2 separate regions of the Homo sapiens genome follow, and region 1 is linked to region 2. Evidence: fine-mapped expression QTL. Tissue or cell type: whole blood. Region 2 holds a variant in brackets; the other region holds the start of a gene. All regions are shown on one strand. Distances are from middle to middle.

Evidence for each region. PIP is the estimated chance that this variant, and not a neighbour inherited with it, causes the effect.
Region 1: SLC45A4 starts here. The variant in region 2 is fine-mapped to the expression of SLC45A4 in whole blood (TOPMed, PIP above 0.99).

Annotation. Positions count from the first base shown.
Region 1 is chr8:141,305,510-141,310,670 of GRCh38, reverse strand. SLC45A4 (solute carrier family 45 member 4) reads left to right here and starts at 2,383. Exons shown (of 9, transcript NM_001286646.2): 1 at 2,383-2,575. RefSeq lists silencers at 2,148-2,387, 2,408-2,507.
Region 2 is chr8:141,207,351-141,212,665 of GRCh38, reverse strand. SLC45A4 (solute carrier family 45 member 4) reads left to right here. Exons shown (of 9, transcript NM_001286646.2): 8 at 110-469; 9 at 969-5,315. The coding sequence ends at 1,094. Among named protein-coding and RNA genes, the nearest start is that of SLC45A4-AS1, 45 kb to the left of the region's middle. RefSeq lists enhancers at 3,335-3,842, 3,843-4,350. The variant C/T (reference allele first, on the strand shown) is at 2,569.

The sequences.
Region 1 (5,161 bases), 98 kb before region 2:
CTCCATGGCTACCATGGCTGGTACATACCCCACAATGCACTCCTTAAGAAGAGAGATGGGATCATGTTCCCAGCTCCAGTACTAGGACCCAGCAAAGCGTGTGGCACATAGTAGGCACACACTCAGTAGTTGGTTACTGCATGAATGACAATGAAGACAATTCAATCAATACCAGCAATTTGTGAATAAACAAAGTCTTTACCTGTTCTGTCCTCTTGATTGTATTGTCATTTTAAAAAGCATCATTTTGCTATTTTGTTTAAGCTTCAGGACAACTTGTGAACTAGGTACTATTAGAATGCTCACTTATAGAAGAGGACTCAGGGAGGTTAAGTAGGCGCCCAGGCTCACACAGTTGGCTCACAGCACACCTGGAATTGCCGCTGCCTCTATCCTTTGGCCATTGAAAGAAAAATCACCAGGGAAGCAGATGTACAGTTTGAGCACTCATGATGTGTCTGATGCTGCTTTGGACTGTCTACAGACCATTGATGTACTTACTAACCCTCTGTTGAGATACTGCATACACATGGAAAAACACACACGTCTTTTTTTTTTTTTAATAGAGATAGGGTCTTACCATGTTGCTCAGGCTGGTCTCAAACTCCTGGGCTCAAGCAATCCACCCGCTTTGGCCTTCCAAAGTGTTAGAATTACAGGCGTGAATCACCGTGCCCCACAGGCACATGCATCTTGACTGCACAGCTGGAAAAGTCATCATAAACTGAGCACACTGTAACCAGCACTCAGACCAAGACACAGAACACAGCCAGCCCCCAGACACGTCCTCTGTGCCCTGCTTCCTGGCTCTGGCACCCCTCCCTCCAAGGGTAACCACTATCCTGACTGCTACCCCCATATACACCTTCTACCACTTTATCCACATGGAAACAAATATGGCTTTTTATCCTCTGGCTTCTTTTCCTCAACATCATTTGTGAGAGTCATCCATGTTGTTGTGTGTAGTTGATTATTCACTGTCATTGCTGTCATTCCACTGTGTGAATATATCACAATTTATGTATCCATTTAACGGCTGATGAGCATTTCAGTAGTTTCCAGTTTGGGGCAATTATAAACACTGCTGCTATCAACAGAAACACAATGTTAGGTGTGTATCTAGGAGCAGAATTGCTGGGTAATCAAGGCCTTTCAAAAAGATTTTGAAAGTTGTACCACTTTGCATGTCCACCAACAGTGTCTGGCAGTTCCAGTTGCTCCATTTCCTTGTCAACACTTGATATGGTCAGATTTTCCCATTTCCGATGCTCTTGGAGGCTCTGCTCTGCACTTCACTTCTAAATTCCTTTAGCAACAGGTGAGATGGATCTTACGATTTCTATTTTACAGATGAGGACGCCAAGGTTCTGAGAAATGAAGTAATTCCTCCAAAGCAACTTAAACCCTGGCAAGGGTGCAGGGCTGCGACGTTAACAGGGTTGGCCTCAGCCCATCACATCTGTCTGTTAAAGCCGCCTCCCCAGACCTTGTCTTGATGGGGTTTCCCAGCAGTCCTGCCCTAGGGATTGTGGCCCTTCTACACGTGGGGAGAGACGGATCAGTGTCCCTGGCCAGGGCCAAGCCTGAGAGGGAGGCCCAGCCTCCAGGAAGCTCCGGGTCGGGTCTTCGTCCTGCCCCGCTCTCCAGGTTGGAGAGGGGACCCGCAGAGCGCGGGGCGTTGGGGGAGTTGGGGACGGGGGCGTGGTCCGGGACCAGGTAGGAGGTCTTCGGAGGGTGGCAGGGAGGGGAAAACAGGAGAGTTTTCTCCTGCAGCGGAGGAGGGGCTGCAGCACCTGGATGGGGCCCATGTCGCCGCGCCACGGGCAGGGGCGGAGGGGGCGGGAGGGTGCTTGCCAAGGGGCTGGGCTGCCGGGGGCCGGGGCCTCGTGGCTAGCCGGACCCCTCTGCGACAGAGTGGCGAGAGGAGCGGGGAGAGAAGGTGGGGACAGGCGGGGGCCACCTCCTGCGGCTGCAGAGAGGGATGGGGTGGATTGCGGGCCAGCGCTTTAGGGGAGAGAGGGCGGACGCTCGGTGCGGAGGGGCCGGGGCCGGGGCCGGGGCCGGGGGCGTAGCGGGAGGAGGGCGGGGGCGGGGCTGGATTATGGCTGGGGGCGGGGCCATGGCGAGACGGGGGCGGGAGCCACGGTGCGCGCGGGGGCGGGGCAGGGGCGCGGCGGGGGCGGGGCGGCCGTTCGGGGGCGGGGTGGGCGGCAGCGGAGGCCAATGAGCGCGCGCGGCGCAGACCCCGCCCCCCGAATCCCCGTCCCGCGGCGGCGGGTGCTGCATAGTCATGAGGCGCAGGGGCCGGCGCTGCGTCAGCGGAAGCGGCGCGGAGCGGCTGTTTCCGACCCGATAAAGCGGCGTTGTCTCCGCGCGCCGGCCGCAGCCTCGCAGCGCTCTCTCCGCGCCCGCGTCGCTGACTGACCGCCCGGCCGGCCGGCCGAGGGAGCAGCCCCCGCCCGGACCCGCAGCCGCCTCCCGACCCCGGTGCGCCCGGGGCTCCGCGCCCCCGTAGCCCCTGCCCGGCCCGGCCCGGCCGCCCCGCCGCCCCCGCGGCCCCGGCCGGAGGAGACAGGTGAGTGGCCTGCCGCCCGCAGCCGCCTGCCCCGCCGCCCCCTGCACCTCGCACCTGGGCGCCGGGCACCTGCAGCCTCCCCACCCCCACCTCCCGCACAGCCTCGGCCTCCAGGTCGGGTCCGCGCCGCAGCCCCAGCCCCGCACCTTCTCCGGGGGAGGGGACGTGCCCCCACCCGGCTTGCGCTGGCTCCTCAGGGCCCCCCAATTCCTTCCCGCCTCCTCTTTCCGGATTGCACCTGCCCTGGTCCCCAGCCCTGCAGCCTCCCTCATTCCCCCCACCCCGGCCCCCACCCCGGGGCGCGCGCCTTCATTTGGACCCGGCCCGCTTTCGCACCCATCAGTCCTCCCCGCCCCCAGTTCCTCGGTTTCTCTACCCAGAGAGGAGCCTGGCGCCTCTAACTCCTGGTCCTGACCCTGTCTTGTCCTTCTAACCCCTGCCTGCTATCTCTAACTTATGAGAATTCAACCAGCGATACACCACTCGCGAAGTGGCCCCCTCTCCCCTCTGTCTGGACCGGTCCTCCCAACCGAACACACTCCCTTCTTCCCCTTCTTCCCCTTCCCTTCTTCCCCTCCTTTCCCTCTGCCCAGTGCACACACGACCCTGGCAGCACTGCTAGCCAGTGTCCCCCGCCTCGGACCCCCAGCCTGCACCGCCAGACTGTGGCTCTGCCCCGGTCTCATCGGCACTGCGCTCCCTTGTGTCCCTTTGAAGATACCTTGATTTCCTGAGACCGACCTTGTCCCTGGAGGAAAGAGGCCAGGGCATCAGTTCATCCGGGCCCAGATTCCCTGCTCTGTAGAAGTCCCCGCACCTTCTGCGTCTCAGCACCCGCTGCCCCTTTCCCCTTTGCGCTTAACCCGTTCCTCCCCCAGGTATCCTGCTCTGGATTGGAGCACTTCCAGCAGCGGCTTTTCCAGCGGAGGCGGATCCACACGGGGCCCAGCCTCCTGGTTAGCTATTCAGAATGATTCTAGAAGGCGGGGGCTAGGGAGGGCTGGGAAGGGCCGCTTGACCTCCTAAGGAGCCTGAGGTGTTTGTGTCTCTCCAGTGCGGGTCACTGATGGAGTGTGGCTTCAGGTTCACAGACCTAGCCACTGACCCCCATCTGATACCTCAGCTGACTCCAGCAAAACAGGGCTTGTCGTTTTTATTACTGTTTTGGGGGCTGTCTTTTCCAGTCTATGACCCGGAGCGAGGAGGGTTTACCAGATGAGTGATTGAACTAATTGTTGTGGGGTCAGATGATTCTTGTGGGCTGGTAGATTCTGAATCGAAGCCCATTTCTGCTGGGGAAAAGCCACTGCATCTGCCCAGCATTACTGAGAGCGCCCTGCGCTTCCATTCCCCAGACGGTCTCATCCTTCCTGTGTCATTGGCAGACAGGTAGAATGTGGTAGGAATCTTATCCTTCTGTTATTTTGTGCTGGCTTTAGGAAAAAATAAGAAAACAAAAAGCTGGAGTATTGGTGTACAGGTTAGGGAGTGTAACACATGGGGATCAGAGCAGGTAACACACACTGTCCTTAAAAGAAATGTATAGTGTCCTCACTTTTCTGCTAGGTTTGAATTATTGTTAAAAGAACGAGCAGAGATTATTTAAATGCTTGGGAGAGGTTTTGCAGAAGCCACTTGATGAGAAGAGGCAGCCCTGCAGGTTCCGGGTGGAGGAGACTCAGGCGCAGTAAAGAACTCATGTGTTTCTAGAGAGAGGCTGGGGAACTAGGTCGTCTTACACATCAAGGATTTCACACCCGTTCAGGCTAATTGTTTTTGTGGCAGTGGCTGTAAAGGAAAGAAGCAAATCGTTTGAAATGTGTTTGAAATACACACTGGGTATTTAAAGGTGTGTTTTTTTGGCCCAGGTGTTCACAGGGCGGGGAGTGGGGAGGCTGCCCAGGGCCACCTCCCGGGCCTCGTGGGGGGAGTGGCCTGCTGCCCTGCCGAGATGCGTGCTGCAGCTTTGGCCCTTGTCGCATCGTGAAAGCAGATCAGAGATTGGACTGGGTGAGCTCCAAGGTGTGTGTCTTGCAGCTTGTAACACCCTCTAACTTTGCTTATTGGAGGGGGGTGGGGGAGGGGCGGAGCAAGCCTGTAAACCGGATTCTGCCTCCTTTCCGTGAGCTCTGAGATCCCGCCCCAGCCCGCCCCGCAGATCTGCAGGGAAGGAGAGGGCTGCGGCAGCGGCAGCTCCCCACTTTCCCGATGGAGGAAAGGAGCCGAGGAAGGTATTTCAGCCAATCTTGAGGTTGCTTGGTGGTGAATGGATTGTATCTGTGTTGTCAGGAGAGAGGTGGGGAGGACAGAGGAGTGCAGCGCAGGGGTTCGGGCTGTGATTGTCGTTCTGACCGTGGTGCATCCCAGTGCCCTCTCCCGCTCTTCCCGAGGGTCCTGACGCCCAGTGGCTGGCTGGGGTGGTTTGTGACCAACAGCCTTGTGGCCTGGCACCGAGTGAGGGTGACTGACAAGCACTGTAGGTGGCAGACAACCCCAAATTGCCAGTGCCCTTCTTGGGAACACCCCTGGCAGAGTCGTGTCTGTAATTTGTGGAGGCAGAATATGCTGGAAGCCGCGTTCCTGCTA
Region 2 (5,315 bases):
GGAAGACGGGTCATGTTTCCAGGCTTGTGGGTTAATACTCACAGTTGTGAAGCACGGGTAGCAGCCACCTTCTCCAGCCGCTCACCGCCTCGTGTTTCCTCTCTTGCAGTACATCCACCACAGCCCCGGGAACTCCAAGCGAGGGTTTGGCATAGATTGTGCCATCCTGTCCTGCCAAGTGTACATCTCGCAGATCCTGGTGGCCTCTGCCCTTGGGGGCGTGGTCGACGCCGTGGGGACTGTCCGCGTCATCCCCATGGTGGCCTCTGTGGGCTCTTTCCTGGGCTTCCTGACGGCCACATTCCTGGTGATCTATCCCAACGTGTCAGAGGAGGCCAAGGAGGAGCAGAAAGGCCTGTCTTCCCCGTTGGCCGGCGAAGGCAGGGCCGGTGGGAACAGCGAAAAGCCCACCGTGCTGAAGCTCACGCGGAAGGAGGGCCTGCAGGGACCGGTGGAGACAGAGTCCGTGGTCTGAGCCGCACTCCCGTTTACACACATTCCAGTGGGCGGGTGGGCGGGCGGGCGGGCGGCGGGGCCAGGCCATGGGCGGGAGCAGAGACACCGCGGAACCCTGCAGATGCTGTGGCCGACCCGGCAGTGCGGGCCAGAGCCCCTCCGCCCCCATAGCCACAATTCAGTAGTCGTAGGGTAGGTTTGAGCTACTAAGCAAATACCACACTAACCACTTTTTCGATAATTAAAAGAATCATTTGAAATATTTTTTTTAATTGAAAAAGATATTTTAATTTCAGCTCTTTTATTCTGCAGGTGTATTATTCTGCATGTTTTTAAATGATATAAAACATTTATATAGACAATAAGCAACTTAGAAAAAATAAGATTTTGCATTTCTAAAATTATAATTGAAAACAAAATCTGACATTCTCTGCTAAGTCTTATCTGAATGCTTCAGATAATGGTAGTGTAGTCAGTGACTAAAATATTTTTATCAAATTTCCTCTCTGTAGACGCCTGCAGGTATTGACGTCTGTCAGATCTCGTCACATTGGCTGGTGCCGCAGCTGTTGGAGAGTATTTTTCTTTATGATTATTTTAGAAAAAAAATTTTCTTTTCCACAATGTGGTTCTCTTAGAAGAATGACGTATCTTCTTTTCCTCAGCGAGTTGGACACATTGTGCCCAGGGCAGCCCTGTCCTTGGGCAGCGACCGCACACCAAAGCTGGGAGGAGGCTGGTCCGGGGGGCCTGGGCAGAAGACAGTGATTTGCAGGGGTGGCTCCCAGACACCCTGCCCAGGGATGGGCTGGGCACCACCTGGGGGCGGAGCGTGAGCTCCAGACGAGCTCCTGCGTGCGCGTGTGAGTGTGTCTGCGCCCAGCCATGTGACCCCGCTCGTCCCGTCTGAAGGACTCTCCTAGGAGGCCAGGTTGCCCCTCCAGACCGCTCCCAACGTCAGGGGGAAGGAAACGTTGACTTTCACTGCACTTTGATTCGTCTCTAAACCATTTGCTGGGGATTCCTGAGAGCAGAGCTCCCAGCGGGCCCTGCCTCCCAAGTCCCGCCGCAAGGCTACCTCGGGTGTGTGGATGTGCGAGGGCCTCCCCCGCTTGCGAAGGGGACATGCGTGCTGGAACCTGTCGGAACTCCATGCCTTCCTCGCCTGCTCACCTGCTCGACGCTGGAATCGGGACAGGTGCAAAGGGACGCAGACGTCTGGGACAGCTAAGGCCCGTGTCACCGGAGGGCTCCGCACAGTCGTTCTGGTTTCAACGAATAAGCAAAACTCGGGCAAGTACTGCAGCTATTTGGAAATGTTTTCCAAACCACAGTCTCTTTAGAACTAAGCCTATTTGAAACGGTCGGTGTAGGCTTACTGAGATCAGGAGACAGGGAGGCCCCGCACATCACACAGATAAAGTCAGACAATTGTAATTAATACTTTTGCTGCCTCAAGTTGTTTTTTAAATAAAGTACTTTGAAATGCATGAGAATCATGCTGCAATATGATCATTCTAGAGCAAATATATATATACACGTATATATATTTCAAGATGAAACTAAAGCAGTTTTTAAATAAATTACTTGAATTTTCTGTGTATTTAAAGGAACGACTGTTTAATGTACTTGATGGGCCTCTGGTCTTGCCGTGTCTCCTGCCGCTGGTGGCACTTTGTAGATTGTGTGTTTGTGTCCGGGTGGCAGTTGGGTACCTGCTCACGCACGGTGTGTCTGCCAGGCCACGGTGTCCCAGGATCGCAGAGGGCTGACTTTCAAGACTTCAAGAACATTTTCTGGATGTGTGGAAACTTGAGAATGGCCTTGTGAATCTCGTGCTTGGACAGGGCAAGTCCGACTACTGAAAGTGCTGCCAGCTTTGCTGCGAGCCCTCCGGCCAGCGGGAGCCCCGTGGGCTGGGCACTGTGGCCCTTCTTCTCTGGGGGACGGCACCCCTGGCTTCCTCACCTCGGCCGGGCGTCCGTGGCAGCTCACTCTATGCAACTTGATCCTCTAGCGGCTTTAAGACTGTAGATCCCCTCTCTGAGACCTGGCTGTACTTGTCAGGATCTCGAGGCGCAGCTCCCGTCTTAGCTGGTTTCTCCGGCTTCT[C/T]GTCCTGACGACTATAAAACAGTTGGAGGCAAGAAAGCAGCGGATGTGGGGTGGCAGTGGCCTGACCCGAATCAAGATCCGACCCAAACCACACCAAATGTGGGTTCATCTGGGGGCCACCCCTTGCCTGAGGCTTCCCACCCTCATCTGAAGGCCCAGGGGCCGGATCCAGGGCTCACCAAAGCCGATTCCTCGCCAGCTGGGAGTGCAGAAGTCTCAGGGCCTGGCTGCGACTTGATTTTTAGGAGGAAGAGGGGCTTCGCAACCCCCCTCTGAATAGTGTGTTAACCCTTGAGATCCCAGCCTCGACTAATCTGAAGTAAGGACAACAAAGGCCATTCAGTGCCCTCCACATGGCCTTGCCACAGTCACTGTCAGGGTATGAACGTGCCGGAAGCCAGTGCCAGCCAGGGACAGGCGTGACTGTTGTGTGCTCCTCGGTGACAGGAGTCGGTGGCTGCACACTTTGTAGACTCGTCAAGCTGTCAGCACTTCAGGTGTTTGCAAGCAAAGCCCTTCTTAGTGTGCAGGTCAGTGTGCAGAGCCCAAATGAGGGGACCGCAGGGGCTGGGGTCCAGGGTCAGTAGAGTCGGTTTCTGGAGCTGCCTTCCTGGGAGGCAGGTGTGGGTGACCGGGGCTCTGGCGGTGCGTGTGGGCCCGGCCTGGCCACAGCGGGGACCAGGTCACGACATCTTTGGCCTCAACCCCTCCCCTGCACTGAGATTATTTCCAGATTGCACTCACTTGAAACCGTCCGTGTCGTCACCTTGTGTCTTAAGGGAAGCCGAGAAGAAGGGCAGACGGGCAGGCTGTCTTGTCTGCAAAGCGCCATTGCGCCCGCAGCTTGTGTGGGTCAGGCTGCAGCTCGGGTGTCTGTGGCTTCTAACCTTGTACCTCAGACGGATGCAGTAACAAGGCGGGGCTGGGGACGCCGGTCAGTGTCAAAGGGGAGGTGCTCTGGCTGATAGCCTTGCCCGAGAGGGACGAGGAGGCCGTGCGGGTGCCCCCTGGGGAAGCTGGCCAGCCATCCAGTGCTGAGGACGCAGCTGGAGTTGGGCTCGTGGCACCCTTGGGGTGTGGGCTGTGCAGGCTGGTGGCCTGGGTGCCTCTGCACACTGAGTGGAGTGTCAGGCAGGGTGTGTCGGTTGGTCGAGTCTTGTGTAATGTGCGCAGACCAGTTACCAAACTAGGATAATGTTGGTCTCATTTGTGGTGGTTTTGTTCCCTATACAAGTCAGCTAAGTAAAGACTCTTTTAACGAGCTTCCCCTTAACACATGGCAGAAGTTTCCAGGTGCAGGAATGCGAGCTGGCGGGAAGGGGCAGAGGCCGTGAGCTCTCAGCTGGGCCGGCCTGCCTGTGTCCCCTTTCCTGGGTCTGTCGGCAGACTGGCATCATGACGTTCCCTGGTGGCTGAAGAGCTAGCTTTGGAGTGTTGTTTTTCTCACTCTCAGGCAGGGGCCTTAGCTGGAATCCTCCAACCTGCCACTGAACACGTCAGTGCTGTGTGCTGCCTCTTGGACACCTGCCCTTGAAAGCCTCAGGCCCCTGGGAGAAGCACTCTGTCCAGTCCTGTCCCCGGGGGGGAGGCAGGGCCACTGAGCCCTCCTCAGATGGTTAGTGGCTTCCAACAGCCATCAGGAGTGTTTCTTGAATGCCCCAGGTGTGGAGGACTTGGTCTGTGACCACCTAGAACCCCAGAGCTGAACAGGAAGCCGTCCCTGCAGCAACAAGAGGGCTGGAAGGGGGAGCTGCAGGCCACCCTCGGCTCTCCCACTGCTGGGGCGGTGATGTTCGGGTGACATGTTTGAAAAATACTCTTAAAGATACCAACTGTTCCCTTATATGGCTAATGGTTTGTGCAGCCACCAGCGATGGCGGCCCCTATTAGAGACCAGGTTTGTTAAAACACCAAATATTGCTGTCCACACTAGACATTAACCGGCTTCAGAAAAGATGGACACCTTTTCCCACGCTGTTTCGCTTCTTAACTTTGGTCCAGCTTTAGCCACCACACAGCGTGTGAGGGACTGCTGCTGCGGAGTCAGCCTCGTTTGTCCCTCCGCCTCCCACCAGCACGCGCCGCTTCTGAGAGACACCAGCTCCCTGCCTCCAAGCCTGGTGCCACAGGCCTGTCGTGAGGGACCCCTGCTTCCGAGAGCTCCTGGGGGGGTTCTGCCCTTCACCACCTGGGAGAGGTGTCAGTTCAGTTCCGAGTTGAACAAGGCCCGTGCACACAGCATGTTGGGGGCCCAGCCCAAAGTTCTTGTCACCTCCTCATGCAAAGCCAGCCATCACCCTCCGGCCAGAGCTCAAGGTGGCCCCTTGGCCAGCCCCTCCTTGGGTCCTCCAGGAGGACTGAGCACCCCTCCTAGCGGCATCCCTTGCCCTCCACAGTGCTGCCAGGGGCACGTCGCTCTGTGCCGTGGACTGAGACCATCCCCTGGTGACAGAATGACCCGTTTGTTGGAAATGCCTCGTTGCCAGAGAAACTCCCCAGGCATCTCGGAACGAAACTATTTAGTTCCATTGTGAACTGGCCACGGGACAGCTTTTTATCAACTTATTAAGTTGGAGCACTGTAATCGCGCTTGCTGAGTTAGCAGTGGTGGTAAGCGTGTGTTAAACACATAATGTTACGTTTTAGGAGAGAGAGGTCGTAAGGAAGTGTCGTGTCGCTCATGACTCTCTTCTATTAGTTGGGTAACAGTGGCCTCATGTTTGTGTCTGTGTGTACACAGAGCCCTT